Homo sapiens: one gene and its partner. The protein of the gene in region 2 purifies or fractionates together with the protein of the main gene of each other region. This does not show direct contact. Each region holds a gene or a part of one and is shown on either strand. Other genes may lie near its edges.

Region 1 (3,500 bases), on a different chromosome or scaffold from region 2:
TACTCAGGACCTGAAGAATCATAAAGTGACATTATCAAAGGGAGTCACTCACTCCTGCTTTGGGTTCACTCAGAAATATACTAGATGGCAATCTGGCAGTCCCAGTTGCCACAGAACAGCAGGATATGCAGCAAAGACTGTTCTCTACTGCTGACTCTCAATTACGGGGCAGCTGGCTGAAGGACACAGATGCACCCAAACCTCAAGGCAGCTTGAATACCCTGCATGTTGCAATCTGAGCCAGGAAAACCAACAAGACTGCTCACACAGCAAACATGTCCTGAGCACCTTCCTGCCTGGCCCTGTGCTAGCACTGGGGACATGAAAGAATGACAAAGTGGCCCTCCTTGAGGAGCTCCTAGTCTAGTGGGGACATATAGTAGTAAACAATTACTGATCTTCACAATCGGCTTGGCTGATCTCACTTCCATTTTCCTTTAAAAATCCTTCAGGGAAGGGAGAAAAACAATAAAGTGGAAAATAAAGCAGTGGAGCTCCACTGCTGATTAAAATCTATATTGCTATGGCAGCCCCTTTGAGACAGGATCAGCTCCTGGGTTTGCACCAGCTGGGCTTGTGGAGCTTGTAAATAATTAAAAGGTAATTGGAAGGGGAGACCAAAGTATTAAGTGGATTTCTCTCTCAGGGCAAACGGGGAGGTTCATTGCTGCCAGTCACATTATCTTTCAGGATTATATTCTTTTTTTTTTTTTTTTTTTGAGATGGAGTCTCGCTCTGTCGCCAGGATGGAGGGCAGTGGTGAAATCTTGGCTCACTGCAACCTCCATCTCCCGAGTTCAAGCAATTCTCCTGCCTCAGCCTCCTGAGTAGCTGGAACTACAGGCACGCGCTACCATGCCCAGCTAATTTTTGTATTTTTAGTAGAGACGGGTTTCACCATGTTGGCCAGGATGGTCTCGACCTCTTGACATCCTGATCCACCCACCTTGGCCTCCCAAAGTGCTGGGATTACAGGCAGGAGCCACCGCGCCCAGCCTCAGGATTATATTGTTTTTTACTGACACATGCAGTTCCAGGTAACAGCTGGAGGAGCAAACTAATTAAGGCTGCTCAGATTGCTTTGATGGGCTTAGAGACTGGGGAAAACCAAGATTCAAAACTTTCGATTGCCTTTTTTACGCAAACCAACAGTAACAGGCAGGCTACACCAAGAAGGCAATAAGGCTGCCAAAGGTAAAGGAGTAGGGAGGAAGGAGGGAAATAGAGAGAGAGAGAAGTTAACTTAGAATATTTAGCTGCTGGGGGCTGCCATTACAGCTTGGCCCAGGATAAAGAGGAAGATTTCATTCTTAGGTCTCAATAAAGTTGTTGACACAGGCACCAAGGGATGCATGATCAGCTATAACAGGATGCTGGGAGCAGGCTACTGGGAGTAGCTCTCTCCTATGGTTTTGTCCTGAGGGTGACGAAGGTGGAGCCACACAGGTTGCTGAAGGCCTTCTCCTAGAGAGGCTGGGGTGCTGGCCATGTGTTCTGAGGGCTGACCTGGCTGGTGAACCCATTGCTATGACTGAATACAAAGCCAGGAAGTTGAGTCACTCAGCTCTAAACTCAGTCACACCATAGTCTACAGTGAAGATGGCTCTTGGGGATGTGCAGAGTGAGGAGAGAAGGAAAGAGAATTGGGAGGGTGCATTATAAAGCAGATGCCGGCTGGGCGCGGTGGCTCATGCCTGTAATCCCAGTACTTTGGGAGGTCAAGGCAGGTGGATCACTTGAGGTCTGGATTTTGAGACCAGCCTGGCCAACATGGTGAAACCCCAACTCTACTGAAAAAAGAAATACAAAAATTAGCCAGGTGTGGTGGTACGCGCCTGTAGTCCCAGCTACTTGGGAGGCTGAGGCATGAGAATTGCCTGAACACGGGAGGCAGAGGTTGCAGTGAGCTGAGATCACACCATGGCACTCCAGCCTGGGCAACAGAGCGAGACTCCATCTCAAAAAAAAAAAAAGGCAGATGCCTATGTACCTGACTATTAAACTGCAGGAATGTTCTAACCAAGCCAGCAAATACAAACATCGAAAGCCAATGGGTAAGAAGAAAGTGTTGGCCTTTTCTTTCCATGGATCATTTCAGACCCTTCCAAAATATCCTGAGGGGCCTCTTTTCTTTCACTTACCTTTCTCCATGAGACTAGATATGCCAACAAGAAGGCCCACATGCTAGATTAAGTGAAGTCCAGGGTAGCTTTAAGGCTTAAAAAAGGCATATTTGAATTTGAAGTGACTCCAGAGACCAGTCAATTGGAAGAAGAGACAAAATCAGGCAGGGCCAAAAGTGGACGATCATTCCATCTACTTTGTGCCAACACCTTCTCTGTCCTCTTCAATCTGGCTATCGGTTAATTGGCTAAATCCAGAACCAACTGGCAGTAAATGCCTCTTCTCCTCCTGGATGAGGATTAGTGGGCCAGGATGTCTAACAGTGACTAGCACACAGTAGGCACTCTATCAGTATTCCCTGAATTGGAATGATGAGTAGATGCACACTCACCCCTCTTCTGCATAAAGACGAAGAGGTCATCCAGGAACTCTTTCCTTTCAGGATCACCGTCCAGTTCATACAGCTGCAATCCCAATCCCCCAAGAAAAACACACAGTGAAAAATTCCATCTTGCTGAAGTCTTATACCAGATATACTATGACCATCTGAATCACTACAAATGCAACTCACTGGCTACCTTGGTCCTTATTTCTTGGGAATCAGCTGTAACAAGCCACTGCAGAACTGCCCCTATCTGTATCACAAAGGAAGTATTACAGACCTTGGCAAAATCTCGAGAGATCTCTCTTCCCCGGCCTCCATCTGCATCATCACTCCAGGCCAAACCACCATTCTAAAAGGGAACAAAACACAAAGTTGAGAGGGGCAAAGGAAGAGAAAGAGTTAGGACAGAGGGCAAGGCAATCATTTAGGGCAAAGATGAAGATGCTTAGCAATTGTGCTATCCTCACTCATACTATAAAAGACAACTCAGAAGACTAATTCTGCCACCCTTACAGGGACATCTTTTTTTTTTTTGGCTTTTGATTTGGTTCCAAAATAAAGAGGGAATCGGGTGGAAGAATCATCTCCATTTGTTGGAGAAGGGTAGGTGTCGTGGGTGTCATTTATACTTGATAATCCTGGAAGAGGAGGACACAAAGGCCCACGTTGCTTAGAAGGGGCTCATTCCCGGCTGATCGCCAGAAGCCATCACTCTGAGATGCACCACTTTCCTGCAGACTGGGAAGACACCTTGCCTGGTTTCCTATACAACACTGTAAGTGATAAGGGTCAAAGCGAGCAGGACATACATCCTGAAGTTGGTCTCTTAGTCAAGCCTCACCATTCAAAACCCTAAGCCGCATGGCAAGAACTCATGGTGATATGAGGGCCACCATGGCCTGAGATTGTTTCCAAGGTACAGACTCTGTGCCACTAGGGCGAGAGTTCATTTTTATTAGAGAAACAGTGAAAATCTAAGCCCAACTTAATT
Region 2 (3,500 bases):
AACCCGGCCCCATTCTTCCTTCACATCTGAATAGCTTCATTGATGAGAACCCCTCGGGATTACCTATAGGGGAGGCTTTAGGTAAGTTCTATTACTGCCAGATGTGAAAATTCAGAGATTACTTAACATGACTTGGACTGTATAATATCATTTTGGGTTAAGATTGAATTGTTTCTTCAAATAATGCTAGCAAAACCCCCCCATTTAGTGTGATAATCAGAAACTAGTTCTAAATGCTGTATGATAGTATCCAGTGGATGTCAGGATCATCATTATGTAAGTGAGGAAGAGTTGTCATCATCATCACCATAACTGATTTCTGGCAAATTTAGAAAACATTTACTTCTTACCAAAACCAAATTTGTAGCTACGTCCTTTGTCTTTGTGGAGAAAATATGTTAGTAAAAAACTTTAAATAATGAACTTGAAACCCCAAATTCATAAAAAATTTTTCACAAATATTTTTGCAGATCGTATACATGGGAGTGTCGCTCTGGAAACATTAAGGCAGCAGCAGGCACGGTTCCAGCAGTGGAGCGAGCATCATGCCTTTCTCAGTCAGGGCAGCGCTCCATACCCACACCATCACCATCCTCACCTCCAGCATCTTCCTCAGCCGCCCCTGGGATTACATCAGCCGCCAGTGAGGGCAGACTGGAAGCTCACCAGCAGTGCCGAAGATGAAGTGGAGACCACATACTCAAGGTATTCCAGCGGACTGAAAATAGCCCCTGGAATGCGACCCCCTCACTGTTCTCTTTTTTGACTGTAGTCCTTTTAGCTTCAAGCTGGAATATTGCCTCAGAGAAATTGGATGCTGGCCTTCCAAGCACACGCTACACAGTTCTCTTGTTGACTCTAAAATACAGAAAACTCATTTAGAAGTAACTCTTCTACAAATTTAGGCATGGATGATCTACTATGGGTTGGAAATTAACTTGTTCCCTTACTTTGTGGTCTTTTCTGCGAGAGAAACATACCATCACTGTGAGCAGCTTTTTTTATTTAGTAGTAATACTTGCAAAGAATGAATAAAGACAGGAGTAAATTCGTGGTTAAAAGCTAAAAATTATATCATTAATTATTTTTATGGTGGCACAGAATTCTACATTCCTATAATTCCAGCTACATATGAGTATTTGGTCCTAACTCTAAGCTTGTTTTTGTGGCCAGTGTCACATGAATGCTCTGAAGTGTTTCCTAATCCCTTCTGAATAAGGTCCACCATCATGGTGACCTTTTATAACTTCCAGTTGTCAAAGCTGTATAGAGACAAGGACAGATGTTTTTAATACAATGGGAACAGAAAGAAATCAGGTAATTGAGCATATTTAATTTCTTCACCTCAGCATCTATTGAGTGTTAATGCTTACATCTGAGATGAATTAATGCCAGTTCTAGTTATTAGTACTATGATTTTGTTTGTTGAAAATACATGTGTAGTTGACTAAGCTTTCCTTAATGTGATGGAGCCTTTTGTTTTCTCCTCATATTTTATTGTTTTCATGTAGGTTTCAAGACTTAATCAGAGAACTGTCTCATCGTGATCAAAGTGAAACACGGGAACTAGCTGAAATGCCACCACCTCAATCAAGACTTTTGCAATATAGACAAGTACAGAGTAGAAGCCCACCAGCAGTCCCATCTCCCCCATCCAGTACAGACCACAGTAGCCACTTTTCTAACTTTAATGATAACAGCAGAGACATTGAAGTAGCCAGCAACCCAGCATTTCCACAGCGCCTCCCACCCCAGATATTCAACTCACCTTTCTCGTTGCCATCTGAACACCTTGCCCCTCCTCCCTTGAAATACCTGGCACCTGATGGAGCATGGACTTTTGCTAACTTGCAACAGAATCACCTAATGGGGCCAGGTTTTCCCTATGGCCTACCTCCATTGCCTCACAGGCCACCGCAGAACCCTTTTGTACAAATACAGAATCATCAACATGCTATTGGTCAAGAGCCATTTCACCCATTGTCATCTCGAACAGTATCTTCTTCTTCGCTCCCTAGCTTAGAAGAGGTAAATGTCTTCTTATTTTCCTTTTGTTATTAGCTGATTGTGAAAAATATCAGTATTTATTGATTTGATAATAGGAAGGCACAGATCTTATTGAATTTAACAGCGTATTAAAGATAATCCTTTCTTGGGAATTATTTTAATTGCCACCCTCCTATTGTATTTCAGGTTTTGTAAAGTGGACACTTTTGTTGAAACATGAAGCCCCTTAAAAGTCTTTTATTGCTGTTTAAAGAAAATATTGAATATCTGAGGACTCTATTCAAGGAGCTTTGTCTTTTTTTAATCTGAGGAAATGGCTTTTAGTGATTCTTCTTTTCGCTTTAAGTTACATGTGTTAATTATAAATTTGTTAATGAGAACTTTCCAAAGATGCTGGCTTTTCAGCCAGTGCCAGCTCCAAGTGCTGTGCTCCTTCTCCTGCCACTCAGCCTGGTGCTTTGTTAGACCCAGGGACTCTGATTCCCAAATATCAGAATTTGCAGATTTTTAACATAAAATTGACTGTGCTAAACTAAGCATTTTAAGTTAAACTGAATTTTATCTTAAAATACTTAGATATTTCTGCCGGGTGCAGTGGCTCACGCTTGTAATCCCAGCACTTGGGGAGGCCGAGGCGGGCAGATCACGAGGTCAGGAGATCGAGACCATCCTGGCTAACACGGTGAAACCCCGTCTCTACTAAAAATAGAAAAAATTAGCTGGGCGTGGTGGCGGGCGCCTGTAGTCCCAGCTACTCGGGAGGCTGAGGCAGGAGAATGGCGTGAACCCGGGAGGCTGAGCTTGCAGTGAGCCAAGATATGCCACTGCACTCCAGCGTGGGCGACAGAGCAAGACTCTGTCTCAAAAAAAAAAATAAATAAATAAAGTAAAATACTTAGATATTTCTAAAGAGCATCTTTATGGACTTTTTTTTCCTATGAAAAACTTAGTAATTCCAGGTTATAAAACTTCCAAAGCAGTACCATGTGGTGTAGGCTACAAAAATGTCTAGCTGATCCCATTAAATTTGCAGTGATTAAAGATAAAAATGTGTAAAGCCGGTTGTAGTCATATCAGACAGAGACATCTTAAATCAGGATAAAGATTTCTAATTTTGATATATGAAAAATACTTTTTTGATATTAGCTTCATTTTGGCAGTTTCAGAATGATATCTAAAGGCCATTAGAAATAATTGATTCACATTTTACAAGTTGCCTGCTATAGATGCTAATTAAAAGTCAAGATTCATAGGGAAAGCTGTATGTCTTATTTGTAGGGATTTAGAGGCAGTCTGTTCAAATTGTCCCAGTATTCATTGATTGGCTCATTCTGTATAGCTGTCATTAAAACAACTTACTGTGATTTTAGGCTCTTAAAGTAAGTTAGAAGCACAATAAAGATGAATTGGTATCTACATATATGTATTGTGAGGATCTAGAATTTTGGAACCATACTTTACAAAAATTTGGCACACATCTGACAGTCTTTCAG

Evidence for each region.
Region 1: the proteins of HELZ (region 2) and ARID3B purify together in Homo sapiens (affinity purification with mass spectrometry, with the first as the bait; one large-scale study listed by BioGRID). This does not show direct contact.

Annotation. Positions count from the first base shown.
Region 1 is NC_000015.10:74,572,220-74,575,719, reverse strand, and holds part of ARID3B (AT-rich interactive domain-containing protein 3B), read right to left. Parts: intron 2,859-3,500; coding exon 2,787-2,858; intron 2,589-2,786; coding exon 2,516-2,588; intron 1-2,515. UniProt on the Homo sapiens protein: Transcription factor which may be involved in neuroblastoma growth and malignant transformation. Favors nuclear targeting of ARID3A.
Region 2 is NC_000017.11:67,105,697-67,109,196, reverse strand, and holds part of HELZ (probable helicase with zinc finger domain), read left to right. Parts: coding exon 1-81; intron 82-470; coding exon 471-705; intron 706-1,511; coding exon 1,512-2,028; intron 2,029-3,500. UniProt on the Homo sapiens protein: May act as a helicase that plays a role in RNA metabolism in multiple tissues and organs within the developing embryo.